Linked DNA regions of Homo sapiens: region 1 is linked to region 2. Evidence: fine-mapped expression QTL. Tissue or cell type: whole blood. Region 2 holds a variant in brackets; the other region holds the start of a gene. All regions are shown on one strand. Distances are from middle to middle.

The links. PIP is the estimated chance that this variant, and not a neighbour inherited with it, causes the effect.
Region 1: it holds the start of SCAMP3, and the variant in region 2 is the best candidate, but not a certain one, in a credible set for the expression of SCAMP3 in whole blood (TOPMed, PIP 0.75).

The regions. Positions count from the first base shown.
Region 1 is chr1:155,259,312-155,264,311 of GRCh38, forward strand. SCAMP3 (secretory carrier membrane protein 3) reads right to left here and starts at 3,049. Exons shown (of 9, transcript NM_005698.4): 1 at 2,775-3,049; 2 at 2,346-2,423; 3 at 1,226-1,348; 4 at 1,019-1,139. The coding sequence starts at 2,840. It overlaps CLK2 (CDC like kinase 2), which reads right to left. Exons shown (of 13, transcript NM_001294338.2): 11 at 4,910-4,989; 12 at 4,639-4,729; 13 at 3,557-4,089. The coding sequence ends at 3,907.
Region 2 is chr1:155,570,030-155,580,920 of GRCh38, forward strand. It overlaps a transcript of MSTO1 not described here and the pseudogene LOC101929703. Among named protein-coding and RNA genes, the nearest start is that of ASH1L, 13 kb to the left of the region's middle. RefSeq lists a silencer at 6,978-7,115. The variant C/A (reference allele first, on the strand shown) is at 5,183.

The DNA.
Region 1 (5,000 bases), 310 kb before region 2:
TTATGGGCACATGCCACCACGCCCAGCTAATTTTTGTATTTTTAGTAGAGACAGGGTTTCACCATGTTGGCTGGTCCTGAACTCCTGACCTCAGGTGATCCACCCGCCTTGGCCTCCCAGAGTGCTGGGATTACAGGCATGAGCCCCGGCGCCTGGCCGTCCACCTCAGCTTCTTGAGGAGCTAGGACTACAGACAGGTACCATCATGCCCTGCTAATTTTTTTCATTAATGTTTTGGAGGCAGGATCTCACTATGTTGTCCAGGTTGGTCTCTAACTCCTGAGCTCAAGCAACCTGCCTGCCTCGGCCTCCCAAAGTGTTGGAATTACAGGCGTGAGGCACCATACCCAGCCCTGGATCCTCTCTTTTATCTCCAATTTGGGGTCCAAGGAGACAAGTGAGAGTGGAAAAATTAATACTGTTTATTATTATTTAAAACATCTAAGCACTGTACCAAGTACTTCACATATATTTTGTTTAACCTTCACAACAACCCTGTCAAACGGATGCAAACGTGGTTTTCATTTTATAAATAGGGAAACTGAGGCATTCAAGATTAAGTAACTTCCCTAAAAGCTCATGGTTAGTAAGCAGTATCTCTAAAATTCAAACTCAGCAGTCTGACTCCAGAGCCCAGGTTTGTGTTTTTTTTTTTTTTTGAGATGGAGTCTCACTCTGTCACCAGGCTGGAGTGCAGTGGCGCTATCTCGGCTCACTGCAACCTCCACCTCCCGGGTTCAAGCGATTCTCCTGCCTCAGCCTCCCGAGTAGCTGGGACTACAGGTGCGCGCCACCATGCCCAGCTAATTTTTGTGTGTGTGTATTTTTAGTAGATACAGGGTTTCACCATGTTGGCTAGGATGGTCTCGATCTCTTGACCTCGTGATCCGCCCACCTCAGCCTCCCAAAGTGCTGGGATTATAGGTGTGAGCCACCGCACCCAGCCGAGCCCAGGCCCTTAAGACCTGTTTTTGCTCCTCCCAAACTCTCAGATGCTCTTCCCCACTCTATTACTTACTAGCTGTGCCCCCCAGGGCAGCATGCTGCAGCTCTCGCTCCCTTCGGTCCAACTCCTCTGCCTTCCGGTTGAGCTCCTCCTGTTTCTTCAGCAGCTCAGCTGTGGCTGCTGCAGCTGAGGCCTGCCCAGTGTGAGCAGACGGAGATGTGAGCCCTGGGCCCCAGGACTGGCCCTTCTCCCCAGCCCTCACCTGCACACCTCCTGTACCTGAGTGCTGTATGAGCCATAGTTCTTAGGTTCTGTGGGGCTGAGCTTTCTCGAGGGCTGCAAGGAGGGAGCTGAGGGTGGAGGCAATGGGGCAGGGGCTGGAGGCTCATAGGCTGGTGGTGGCTGTTGAGGAAAAGACCTTAGTGATCATCTAGTCCCTCATAACACAGGAATCTAGAGTCTGCTTGAATACCTTTAGACCCAGAACTCATGATGTAAGGAAGCAGCCTTTCCCCCATTTGTTAGGAAGCTAGTTCTTCTGTTGAATTTCTGTCAGAGAACTCTATGATGACCTGTAGCAGCCTTATCATCCCTCATATCCAATTCCTTAGTGAGGACTCAAATCACTCATTTACCATATCTCCCCACTTAACTGTGTTTTTTTTTTTTCTTTTCTTCTGGGGATGGAGTGTGGGGTTGTCTCTCTGCCACCCAGGCTGGAGTGCAGTGGTGCAATCATCACTCATCGAAGCCTCAAACTCCTGGGCCCAAGCAGTCTTTCCATCCCAGCCTCCCAAGTAGCAAGGACTACAGGCATGTGCCACTACACCTAGCCAATTTTTAAAACGTTTCAAGAGATGGGGGTCTCGCTGTTGCCCAGGATGGTCTCCATCAAATTCCTGGGCTCAAGCAATCCTCCCACCTCAGCCTCCCAAGTGGGATTACAGGCATGCACACCATGCTTGGCTTTTTTTTTTAAGTTTTAAGTACCATGAAAACCCCTTAAATTCTTACAACTCACCATCTTCTAATCCAGTGGGACAAACAGGTGTAGTCCTCCTCATTCCTTGCTTTCAAACTGCACACCTAACCTAAACTCCAACCAGCCCCAACCTTTATTTTCTTCAAGAAAGCCTTCCCATACAGAACATTGGTTAAGGCCTTGCCAGCCTCCAGATCTTCCCAGGACTGACTTTTAGAGCTCAAACCATTTGGGTTGGTGGCCCTGGTGGCCCTAGAAGGATGAGGCATCCCATGGCTGACTAGCCTCTCTCAGGGAACTAAGATCACAGTGCCTCTTCCTTCCTGTGCATGCAGAAAAGTCCCCTGTACCCAAGCTAACTTGTCTCACTGGCAAACCCTTCCCTTCCTTGAACTCCTATGCTCTCCAGTAGCTCACCTCCCGGGTCTCAAAAGGGTTGTAGACGTCAAGCGTGGCATACTGCCGGCTGGGTCGGTGCTGGATCACAGCTGGGTCCTGAGGGCAGAGACCCGGGTCTCAGCTGGCACCCAGTGCCACCTAGGGGAATTCCCAGGGACCATTCCCAAACTGCCTGTGGCTCCAAGTACTGCACCTTCGGGGCCACGCCGTTGTCCCAGGACTGGGACAACATTTACCTCAAATCCATCATCCAACACTGCCAGCACCAGCCCATTAAGGGGCAGGGCCCGCCCCCCAGAGTGCTCACTGGTCTGGAGTCACTGTCACCCCACGTGGCGGCTCTTCCCAGGATCAAATGTCACAAATGGGGATACAAGTTAGCCCGACCCTACAGAACCGGGAAGAATCAACCTGACCGCCCAAAAGAGGCCGACTGGCGCAAGTCACCTGAAAGGGGTTGTCAAGCTCGCTGGGCTCGGCGAACGGGTTTCCGCCGTCTCTGCTCTGAGCCATGTTTGCAACTGCGGCCTCCGCGGCCCTCTGCCCTCCACGCCCCTGCCGCAGCAGTGGCGGTAGCGGTAGCCCTCAGAGTCCACTTCACTCGCCTCAGTTCGCCCCGCTTCTCTGTGCACGGATTGGTTCCACCGACCGGAAGGGCCACAAGGATCCCCGCAGCAGCCGTGGGTTGCGCCTGCGTCTTGTCCAAAAGCTAAGACGAAAGTGCCCCCACGTGATACCTCTAACCCAGTGCCCACAACCAACTACCGCCCCTCTTCCATGTGACTTCCTTCCACTAACGAACTACACTTCCCAGCAGGCCTCGCGTAGGAATCCGGCCTTCCTAGTCTCCCGAGATGGACGACGGGAGCCTTCTGACCGGTCGTGGCAATCCCCCCTAGGAGCCAGGTTGAGCACGTTTTCAACCTGAGTTTCTGGCTCTATACTGGGCCGCGGCCTAATGACTCTAGGAGTCAGATCTTTCCCAACTCTCATAATTCCACATCCGAGAAGTGCCACCTCATAACACTTCTCTGTTTTAATCTGAAAGAAATGCTGCCCCACCCATCACTACCCTCCCATATGATAAGGTGGACAGGGGAAATAAACTGGTAGCCTGGCTGTGCTTCATTTTGGAGGGTAAGGAGGACTCCCTTCATACCCAAACTCAGAAAGTTTGCCAATAGTTTCATCCCTCCACCCCAGCATTCCCAAACCTCCAACTCCAGGGATGGGGGTCAAATGAAGCACGTTATTTTATTTCACAAAGACTGTACAAAATTCCTTATAAAACATGGGGTAGATGCCACCTGGTTACCTCACTCGGCCCCCATCCAACTCCGTATGAGGGGGCAGGTGAGGGTGGAAACTGTGTGGATGGAATAGTATTATGTACAAGGCAGGGGTTGAAGTGATAGGTACAAGTTCTTTCATATTTACACTATTTCACATATTCACAGGTATATAGAGAGCCAGGAGGAAGGAGTGAACTCTGGCTCGTTCTCTTGTATAAAAAAGCACCAGTGTCCTGGACTGGACACCCACTGCTATAAAAGATGCAGGGGGGCCCAGGGCCTGATCGTCACCGACTGATATCCCGACTGGAGTCCCACAACTTGTTGGGCGGCTCAGCCCGAAGGCGGGCGAAGAAAGGATGCTGAAGGGCTTCACCCAAGGTCAGCCGCTTAGCTGGTTCATACTCTAGCATGCTTTCAATCAGATCGAAGAGCTGGTGGTGTTCCTCTGCCTCTGAGGTCAGATACCGCTGGTGGAGGAGGGCAGGAAAAAGGTGAGGCAGGATGCCTTACAAACCCTGCCTTCTTCAAGACCCTACCTTTCATTCTTGGAGAACCAAGGCTCTGCTTGCAACCAATTTGAAGGCTACCTAACCACGACCACACCAGGACCAACGTTTCTGATATTATAGCTCAACCTACCTTCCCACTAGCACAATTACTCCATAATCTTTGAAAGTTCTTTCTACTTGTATATCCTTGTCAACTTCATGAATCTTCTTTAGTTCCTCATTAAAATGTAAGCTCTTCAAAGGTAGTTTATTCTTTTCTGTCTGACCTAAAGAATCCAGGACATTGCTTTGATCTCTGGTTGTCTCAAGGTTAGGCTGTCTAACCTCCTTCCCTCCACAAAACCACTCCCTCTTATGTTTCCTCTGTTGACCAAAGATGTCTTCTTTCAGCTTTCCTCCCCTCCTTTCCTAACCCTCTGCTTGTGAAGAGCATTCCAGGGGGCAAACCACCCTAAGAAGGAAGTGACTTCTGGACGGTGGGCACTATTTATCCCGAGCCCAGCTCACCCGCAGCGGTTTGCAGTTCTCACGAACATAGCGCCCAGCTGATGTGTTCTCATCCCAATCCAGGCGACCCCGGTAAAAATATTTCTGCTTTCTAGAGGGGAAGGGGAGGTTGAGGAATCAGAAGGTCACCCTTGTTACAATTCCCTTATTTCCCCATCTGAAAGTAACTGGGGGGAGAGGAGGTATCAAAGAAAAAAGAAAATGATGTGAAATAGACCAATTCTGTGGAGAGAAAAGGAAAAGAGTTAACTAGTGCCCCCTCAAGGTTCACCTTGTCTTTCGGATCATCCGGGAAGGGATAGGACCCAAGATCCTTTCCATCATGGCTAGATGCTCTCTGTTGTCATGGGTCTGGGAAACAA
Region 2 (10,891 bases):
TTGTGTTGGTATTTGTTTTAAGTTTTCATTTTTATGCATCTCCACCTCAGAACCATAATCTAAATTTACAGTTGAATTCATTTCAATACCTCAGTGGTGTACCATTGAGTCCTAAAATTCTAGAATGTTAATCCCAGTCATGTGTGTACACTAACATGCCTTTTTTGAAGTCTTTTGAAACCTATCAGATACAGTGTGGAGTCCATTTTGCTGAAGAGTATCTAGAATATCTGCTACCCTAAGAAGCAGTCATAGTCCCTTCCATAGTAGTTTAAGTTTTAAATTGTCCACTGTTCTGAGTAACGTGATGAAATTTTGCACCACCCTGTCCTGGATATGAATCAACATAACCACGCTGTACGTGCTCCCATTGGTCAGTCATTGACATCATCGGCTTTTGACATCCATCTGTGGACATCAGCATGACTCAGTGATTCAGGATCACCCTAAGATGATCCCCCTTCTTAGGTATAGTCAGAAGGTTGATATTAGCTACATCAGAATTCCTAAGTCATTCACTTTATCTTATCTTATAAGCGTTTTATCATCTCACTTCAACACAAGAAGGGTGAGCACGGTACTATGAGATATTTTGAGAATGAGCGAGACCATGTTCACATAACTTTTGTATGGTATATTGTTCCGTTTTCTTATTGGTTATTGCTGTTCATTTGTTACTGTGCCAGATTTATAAATTAAACTTGATTATAGGTATATACCTATAGGAAAAAACTGTGTGTGTGTGTTTGTGTGTGTGTTTATTTATTTAGTGATCAGTACTCTGTATGGTTTCAGGCATCCCCTGGGAATCCTGCAGTGGGATCTCCCGAGGATAAGGGTGGACTACTGTATTTCCTTCCTTCTTGCTTTCTTCATTGCAGAAGAGCTAATGCAGCTTTAAAAGCTGGGGAGCTTTAAAAAGTGTATATTGTATCATCACTTGCACTGTTATCAGAATTGTAAACCACATGCATTATTTCTAGCAAAAACACCTATAGCTACAAGACTGAGGTTGGCCGGACACAATGCTCACATGTATAATCCCAGCACTTTATGGGAGGCCAAAGTGGGAGAATTGCTTCAGGCCAGGAGCTGAAGACCAGCCTGGCAACATAGCCCCATCTCTATAAAAAAGTAAAAATTAGCCAGTCATGGTGGTACATGCCTATAGTCCAAGCTTGTCGAACCTGTGGCCCATGGGCTGCATACAACCCAGGACGGCTTTGAATAGGGCCCAACACAAATTGATAAACTTTCTTAAAACATTAAGAGCCTTTTTTTTCTGTGATTTCATTGTTGTTGTTGCTATTTTAGCTCATCAGCTGTTGTTAGTGTTGGTGTGTTTTATGTGTGGCTCAAGACAATTCTTTCGACGTGGCCCAGGAAAGCCAAGATTGGACACCCCTGCTGTAGTCCAAGCTCCTCAGGAGGCTGAAGGGAGAGGATCACTTGAGCCCAGGAGTTCAAGACTGCAGTGAGCGATGATACCACTGCACTCAAGCCTTGGAGACTGCAGGAGACCCTATCTCAAACAAAAACCTTAGAGCTTGGAGAAGTTAGCACTGTTGAAGTTTGTGATAATCAGTAAATTTCAGAACTCTTTTACTTTTATAGCTCTAACATTGCTCTAGGAATCCAAACCTGGGGAGATAGATATTATTAAGATGAGAAAATACAGCATAAGGAATTCTGCTTTTTCTCTCTGAAATTATGAAAACAATGAAATTACTCTTTGTGGCTTGGCATGGTGGCTTACGCCTGTAATCCCAGCACTTTGGGAGGCCGAGGAGGGCAGATCACTTGAGGTCAGGAGGTCAGCCTGGCCAACATGGTGAAACCTCATCTCTACTAAAAATACAAAAATTAGTCGGATGTGGTGGCAGACACCTATAATCCCAGCTTCTTGGGAGGCTGAGGCAGGAGAATCATTTGAACCCAGGAGGCGGAGGTTGCAGTGAGCCAAGATTGCGCCACTGCACTGCAGCCTGGGCGACAGAGTGAGACTCTTGTCTCAAAAAAAAAAAAAAAAAGAAATTAGTCTTTGTGAGCCAAACTTTTCCTATGGGACTTGGGATTTAGGACAATCTCAACCTCAACACTGTTGACATTTGGGGATGGATCATTCTTTGTTGTGGGGGACTCCCTGTGCATTGTAGACTTTAGCAACATACCTGGCCTCTACTCACTCGATGCCAATAGCATCCTCCCTTCCCTCCCTCAGCTGTGACAACCAAAATGCCTCCAAACATTCATTGTCAAATGTTGGGGGAGGGGACAAAATCCCCCTGGTAGAGAACTACTAATTTAGAGAAAGAATTACTGATCATGAGGAATCAGTCTGGGTTTAGTACAAAAGAAAGTCATGACAGACAAATATATCCTTCTTGTTAGAATTCCTGGAATGGCCGGGTGCGGTGGCTCACGCCTGTAATCCCAGCACTTTGAGAGGACAGGCTGGTGGATCACGAAGTCAGGAGTTCAAGACCATCCTGGCCAAGATGGTGAAACCCCGTCTCTACTAAAAATACAAAACTTAACCAGCCATGGTTTCGGGCACCTGTAATCCCAAGCTACTCGGGAGGCTGAGGCAGAGAATTGCTTGAACCCGGGAGATGGAGAATTTTTTTTTCTTTTTTTTGAGATGGAGTTTCGCTCTTGTTGCCCAGGCTGGAGTGCAATGGCATGATCTCGGTTTGCTGCAACCTCCGCCTCCTGGGTTCAAGCGATTCTCCCACCTCAGCCTCCCAAGTAACTGGGTTTGCAGGCATGCGCCACCACGTCTGGCTAATTTTGTATTTTTAGTAGAGATGGGGTTTCTCCATGTTGGTCAGGCTGGTCTCGAACTCCCGACCTCAGGCGATCCACCCGCCCTGGCCTCCCAAAGTGCTCAGATGACAGGTGTGAGCCACTGCGCCAGTCAAAAAAAAGAATTCTTAGAATGGTAGATCAAATTCCATTATTGGTATGTCCTCATTAAAGTTAGGCATTTGATAATCTCGCACAGTGGCTTTTTGGAGAAATGTATACTGAATGTTTAATTGGTTGAATAACCATACCCAAAGGCTACATGTTAGCAAAATGGGTTGAAGTTCCCTTAACCATGGACATACAGGCAGTGGTTATCACTCTTGGCTGCACATTGGAATAAGCTGGGGAGCTTTAAAAATATTGATGCCTGGGTCACTATCAGAGGCTGATTTAATTGATCTGAGGCACACTCTGGGTATCAGAATTTTTAAACTATACCCAAGTGGGCCAGACAGTGGCTCACATCTATAATCCCAGCACTTTGAGAGGCCAAGGCAGGTGGATCGCTTGAGCCCAAGAGTTTGAGAGCAACCTGGGCAACATAATGAGATCCTTTCTCTACAAAAAAGATAGAAAAATTAGCTGGGAATGGTGGCACACGCCTGTAATGCCAGCAGTTGAGAGGCCAAGGTAGACAGATCGCTTGAGCTCAGGAGTTTGAAACTAGCCTGGACCACATGGCGAAACCCTGTCCCTACGGAAAAAAAAAATACGAACTGACCAGGCGCAGTGGCTCACGCCTGTAATCCCAGCACTTTGGGATGGTGAAACTGGCTGATCACCTAAGGTCAGGAGTTTGAGACCAGCCTGGCCAACATGGTGAAACCCTGACTCTACTAAAAATACAAAAATTAGCTGGGCGTGGTGGCAGGTGCCTGTAATCCCAGCTACTAGGGATGCTGAGGCAGGAGACTTGCTTGAAACCAGGAGACAGAGGTTACAGTGAGCCGAGATCACGCTATTGCACTCCAGCCTGGGTGACAAAAGCAAAACTCCATCTCACAAAAAAAAAAAAAAAAAAATTACAAACTGTACCCAGGCTATGCTAGGCAATCGTATCCTGTTAAATAGTTGTATCAATGACTTGAATGAGATCGATGTGGATATATTTTTCAAATTTATACCTTTTGCAAAATTTTTAAAGGGTGGGTAATATGTTGGTGACAGATTTTAAAAAACAAAAAGATCTTCAGATGTGGAATCTTCTGTTGGATCTTATAACAAAAAGAAGACATTAGGCTGGGTGCAGTGGCTCACGCCTGTAATCCCAGCACTTTTAGGAGGCAGAGGCAGGCATATCGCTTGAGCCCAGGAGTTGAAGACCAGCCTGGACAACATGGTGAAACCCCATCTCAACAAAAAACACAAAAATTAGCCAAGTGTAGTGGCATATGCCTGTAGTCCAAGCTACTTGAGAGGCTGAAGTCCAAGGATTGAGGTGGAGATTACAATGAGCCAAGATCACGTCATCACACTGCAGCCTAGGTGACAGAGCAAGACCTTGTCTCAAAAAAAGAAAAAGACATAGCAGAAAAGCTGAGGAAATCCAAATAAAATCTGTAGTTTAGTAAATAGTATTGTTCCAACTTTAATTTCTTAATTTTGATAACTGTCCTATAGTTGTATATATATATATAGACATATATATAACATTAAGGAAAGCTGAATGAAGAGTGTACGAAAGCTCTTCGTACTACGTTTGCAACTCATCTGTAAGTTTACATTGGTTTGTTTGTTTGCTTGCTTTCAAATAGGACCTCACTCTGTTACCCAGGCTGGAGTGCAGTGGTGCAATCCTAGCTCACTGCAACCTCTAGCTTCTTGACTCAAGGGATCCTCCTGCCTCAGCCTCCTGAGCAGCCAGAACTACAGGCACAGGCAACTATGTTCAGCTAATTTTTTTTATTAGTAGTAGAGATAAGGTTTTCCTATGTTGCCCAGGCTGGTCTCGAACTCCTGGTCTCCGAAAGTGCTGGGATTACAGGCCTGAGCCACCGTGCACAGCCTCCACTATCTAATTTTAGAACTTTTTCTTTTTTTTTTTTTTTTTTGAGACGGAGTCTCCTGTTGCCAGGTTGGAGTGCAGTGGCACTATTTCGGCTCACTGCAACCTCCACCTCCCGGGTTCAAGCGATTCTCCTGCCTCAACCTCCCGATTAGCTGGGATTACAGGCATGCGCCGCCATGCCCAGCTAATTTTTGTATTTTTAGTAGAGACGGAGTTTTGCCATGTTGACCAGGCTGCTCTCAAATTCCTGACCTCGGGTGATTCACTCGCCTCAGCTTCCTAAAGTGCTGGGATTACAGGTGTGAGCCACCATGCCAGGCTAATACTTGTACTTTCTATGAGTAAAAATAAATGAGTTCTTTGACC[C/A]TCAAAAAAAAAAAGAGAGAGAGAGAATCCCAGTTTTTCCAGATCCTGTCCAACACATATCATTGTCAGTTCTTTTGATTTGAGCCATCCTAGTGGGTGTGAAGTGGTATCTCATTGTGGTTTTTATTTGCATTTTCTAGATGACTAATAATGTTGAGCATTTTTCATGTGCTTATTGGCCATTTGTATAACTTTTATACTTTGGAGAAATGCCTGCTCAAATCTTTTGCCTTTTTTTTTCTTAATTTGAGTCAGGGTCTCACTCTGTTGCCCCCGGCTGGAGTGCAGTGGTGCAATCACGGCTCACTGCAGCCTCAGCCTCCCAGACCCAGGTGATCCTCCCCGCTCAGCCCCCCAAATAGCTGGGTCCACAGTGGCACGCCACCGCACCTGGCTAATTTTTTAAATTTTTTGTAGAGAGCAGGTCTCATTATGTTACCCAGGCTGGTCTCAAACTCCTGGGCATAAGCAATCCTTCTGCCTCAGCCTCACAAAGTGCTGGGATTGCAGGTGTGAGCCACTGCACCTGGCTCTTTTGCCTATTTTATTTATTTATTTTATTGTTTATTTTTGTCTTATTTTATTTTTATTTATTTATTTATTTATTTATTTATTTATTTATTTATTTTTGAGACAGAGTTCGCTCTGTTGCCCAGGCTGCAGTGCAATGGCGTGATCTCGGCTCACTGCAACCTCCACCTCCTGGGCTCAAGCGATTCTCCTGCCTCAGCCTGCCAAGTGGCTGGGACTACAGGCACACGTCACCACGCCCAGCTAATTTTGTATTTTTAGTAGAGAAGGGGTTTCTCCATGTTGGCCAGGCTGGTCTCAAACTCCTGACCTCAGGTGATCCGCCTGCTTCGGCCTCCCAAAGTGCTGGGATTACAGGTGTGAGCCACCCCGCCAGGCCCCCCATTTTTAAATTGAGTTGCCTTTTTATTAAGTTGTAAATGTTCTTTATATATTATGGAGATAAGTTAAGTTCTATGTGATTTGCAAATATTTTCTCCCATCCTGTGGGTTGTCTTCCACTTACTTGATGGTATCCTTTGAAGTACAAGTGTCTGATTTGGATACAATTCGTTATCTATTTATAGTTTTTTTGTTTTGTTCTGTTTTGTTTTTGTTTTTGTTTTTTGAGACGGAGTCTCTGTCACCAGGCTGGACTGCAGTGACGCGATCTCAGCTCACTGCAACTTCCGCCTCCCGGGTTCAAGTGATTCTCCTGCCTCAGCCTCCTGAGTAGCTGGGACTACAGGTGCGCACCACCACGCCCATCTAAGTTTTGTATTTTTAGTAGAGATGGGGTTTCACCATGTTGGCCATGATGGTCTCGATATCTTGACCTTGTGATCCGCCCACCTCAGCCTCCCAAAGTGCTGGGATTACAGGTGTGAGCCACTGTGCCCAGCCTATTTTTAGTTCTTTTGCTTGTGCTTTTGATGTTATATCTAAGAAACCATTGCATAACACACGATAATGAAGATTTACTCCTGTATTTTCTGCTATAGAAAATTAGAGGCTGAGCGCAGTGGCACACGCCTGTAATCCCAGCACTTTGGGAGGCCAAACTGGGTGGATCACCTGAGGTCAGGAGATCGAGACCATCCTGGCTAACATGGTAAAACCCCATCTCTACTAAAAATACAAAAAATTAGCCGGGCGTGGTGGCAGGCGCTTGTAATCCCAGCTACTCGGGAGACTGAGGCAGGAGAATGGCTTGAACCCGGGAGGCGGAGGTTGCAGTGAGCCGAGATCGTGCCATTGCACTCCAGCCTGGGCAACAAGAGCAAAACTCCGTCTCAAAAAAAAAAAAAAAAAAAAAAAAAAAGTTAGAAAACTCACCCCTGCAAGTTTTTTTTTTTGTCTTTTTTTTGTTTGTTTGTTTGTTTTTTGAGATGGAGTCTCGCTCTGTCACCCAGGCTGTAGTGCAGTGGCGCAATCTCAGCTCACTGCAAGCTCCACCTCCCAGGTTCACGCCATTCTCCTGCCTCAGCCTCCGGAGTAGCTGGGACTACAGGCGCCTGCCACCACGCCCGGCTAATTTTTTGTATTTTTAGTAGAGATGGGGTTTTACCATGTTAGCCAGGATGGTCTCGATCTCCTGACCTCGTGATCCACCCGCCTCGGCCTCCCAAAGTGCTGGGATTACAGGCGTGAGCCACCACGCCCGGCCGCCCCCTCCAAGTTTTATACCTGTAGCTCTTACATTTAGGTCTATGAGCTATTTTGCATTCATGTTTGTGTATAATGTAAGGTAGGGGTCCATTTTCATTCTTTTGCATGAGTATCAGGTTGTCCCAGCACTATTTGTTGAAGAGACTATTCTTTCTTCATTGAAGTGTCTTGGCATCCATGTTGAAAATCAGTTGACCATGATGTAAGCGTATGCCAGTACCAGACTATCTTGATTACTGTAGCTTTATCGTAAGTTTTGGAATCAAGATGTATGAGTCCTTTAAATTTGTTATTTTTCAAGAATGCTTGGGCTATTCTAGGTCTATGGCATTTCCATATGAATTTTGAGATCAGCTTCAAAAGTTTTTTCTTAAGACAGGGTCTCACTGTGTCACCCAGGTTGGAGTGGAGTGGCGCGACGCTAGAGTCCACTGCACTTTCGACTTCTCAGGCTCAAGCGATCCTCCCACCTCAGCTCCCCAACTAGCTGGGGCTACAAGCACGAGCCACTACACCCAGCTAATTTTGTATTTTTCGTAGAGACGGAGTTTCACCCTGTTGCCCAGGCTGGTATCGAACTCCTAGCTCAATTGATCCACCCGCCTTGGCCTCCCAAAGAGCTGGGATTATAGGCATGAGCCACCGCACCTAGCTAGCTTGACAATTTTGACCAAAAAGATTGCTGGGATTTTGATAGTAGCAATATTTTTTTAAAAAAAGGACTGGTGATTTTAGTGAACTGTGTTCTCCGTATGAAGCACTGGTGTGATGGAGTTACAAAAGTCGCTCTTGGAAATATAATATCCTAAATTAGGGAAACAGTAGATCATACCTGAAGTGTATTGGGGTAATATAGAGAAGGGACTTGTACTGCATGATAATTGCTTTAGGAAACTGAAAGCATTTATGGGGGAGGGGTGGGGAGCAGAGGACCATAACTACCTTTCTTTTTTTTTTTTTTTTTTTTTTTTTTTTGAGATAGAGTCTCACTCTGTCACCCACACTGGCGTGCAGTCTTGGCTCACTGCAACCTCCGCCTCCCAGGTTCACGTGATTCTTGTGCCTCAGCCTCCCAAGTAGCTGGAACTACAGGCATGCGCCACCACGCCCGGCTAATCTTTTTTTTTTTTTTTTTTTTTGAGACGGAGTCCCACTCTTTAGCCCAGGCCAGACTGCAGTGGCACAATCTCGGCTCACTGCAAGCTCCGCCTCCCAGGTTCACGCCATTCTCCTGCCTCAGCCTCCCGAGTAGCTGGGACTACAGGCGCCCGCCACCGCGCCCGGCTAATTTTTTGTATTTTTAGTAGAGATGGGGTTTCACCGTGTTAGCCAAGATGGTCTCGATCTCCTGACCTTGTGATCCGCCCGCCTCGGCCTCCCAAAGTGCTGGGATTACAGGCGTGAGCCACCGCGCCCGGCCCTGTGTGGTTTTTTTTTTGTTTTTTTTTTTTTCAGTAGAGACGAGGTTTCGCCATATTGGCCAGGCTGGTCTCAAACTCCTGACCTCAGGTGATCTGCCCACCTCGGCCTCCCAAAGTGCTGGGATTACAGGTGTGAGCCACTGCACCCGGCCCATAACTACCTTTAATAATTGAAAAGCTGTCATGTGGAAGATGGCTTGTAAAACCCAAGAGGAGGCCAGGTGTGGTGGCTCACGCTTGTCATCCCAGCACTTTGGGAGGCTGGGGCAGGCGGATCACCTGAGGTTGGGAGTTCAAGACCAGCCTGACCAACATGGAGAAACCCCGTCTCTACTGAAAATACAAAATTAGCTGGACATGGACATGGTGGCGCATGCAGGCAATCCTAGCTACTCGGGAGGCCGAGGCGGGAGAATCGCTTGAACCCGGGAGGCAGAGGTTGTGGTGAGCCGAGATCAAGCCATTGCACTCTGGCCTGGGCAACAAGAGTGAAACTCCATCTCAAAACAAGCAAACAAACAAACAAACAAACAAACAAACAAAAAACCCAAGAGGAAGACTAGGACAGTGAATGGAAGCTACAAGGAGACATGTTGCCTCGAACTACTGAAGAACTTTTATTAAAAGCTGTGTAAAAACCATAATGACTTCCTATTGAGTTCCCCATCACTGGAAATCATTAGGCATTTGCTGATTGACAGTGTAGCATATATAGTGGCTAATGGGAAAGGCTTGAGAGTCAAACATAGATTTCAATTCTAAAACTGCCTGATTTTAGGATATATACCCTTGGAGTTAATCTATCCATACTTATTTTCAGCTGAGCATAATAACGTGTACCTGATGGGACTGTTGTAAGATAATGCCTTTAATTTGCTTATTATAGAGCCTATTTCAGAAAAATATTCAGTGATTAATATTAAGATCAATGTAGCACTGATTTAGTTCTGAACGAGTTCAATCCTTAGACTAGGTCGACATAATCTTAAGCATCTGTGGTTCTCGCCTGTAATCCCAGCACTTTGGGAGGCCGAGGCAGGCAGATCACTTGAGGTTGAGGAGTTTGAGACCAGACTGGCCAAAATGGTGAAACCTCGTCTCTACTAAAAATACAAAAATTAGCCAGGCGTGGTGGTGTGTCTGTAATCCCAGCTACTTGGGAGGCTGAGGCAAGAGAATTTCTTGAACCCGGGAGGCAGAGGTTGCAGTGAGCCGAGATCGGGCCACTGCCCTCCAGCCTGGGCAACAGAGCAAGAGTCCATCTCAAAAAGAAAAAAAAAAAAAAAAGAATCTGTTATTCTCTCTGGGTATAGTGGCTCGCACATGTAATCCCAACTACTCGTGAGGCTGAAGGGAGAGGTTGCATGGCCAGCGGTTTGAAACCAGCCTTGGTAACATAATGAGACCCTGACTCTAAGAAAAAAAAAAAAAAGGGCCGAGTGTGGTGGCTCACACCCGTAATCCCAGCATGTTGGGAGATGGAGGCAGGACGATCCCTTGTGCCCAGGAGTTTGAGACCAGACTGGGCAACATAGTAAGACCCTGCCCTGTCTCTACAAAAATAATAAAAATAAATTAGCCAGGCGTGGTGGTGTGCACCTGTGGTCCCAGTTACTTGGGAGGCTGAGGTGAAAGGATCATTTCGGCCTGAGAGTTCGAGGTTGCAGTGAGCCGTGATCACGCCACTGCACTGAAGTTTTAGCACATAGTCTTTGGGATACCTTTCTAAATTTGGCACAGGCTGTTTCTGACTTCCTTCTGAAGTTACATTTGGCCTGTCTAGGCAAGAATACTCTTTTTGTTGTTTGTTTAAAGAAAGATAATTTGGCCAGGTGCGGTGGCTCACGCCTGTAATCCCAGCACTTTGGGAGGCCGAGGTGGGCGGATTGCCTGAGCTGAGGAGTTCAAAACCACCCTGGGCAACATGGTGAAACCCCATCTCTACTAAACACCAAAAAATTAGCCAAGTGTGGTGGCATGCATCTGTACTCGGGAGGCTGAGGCAGGAGAATTGCTTGAGCCCAGGAGGCAGAGGTTGCAGTGAGCCAAGATTGTGCCACTGCACTCCACTTGGGTAACAGAGTGAGACTCTGTCTCAAAAAAAAAAAAA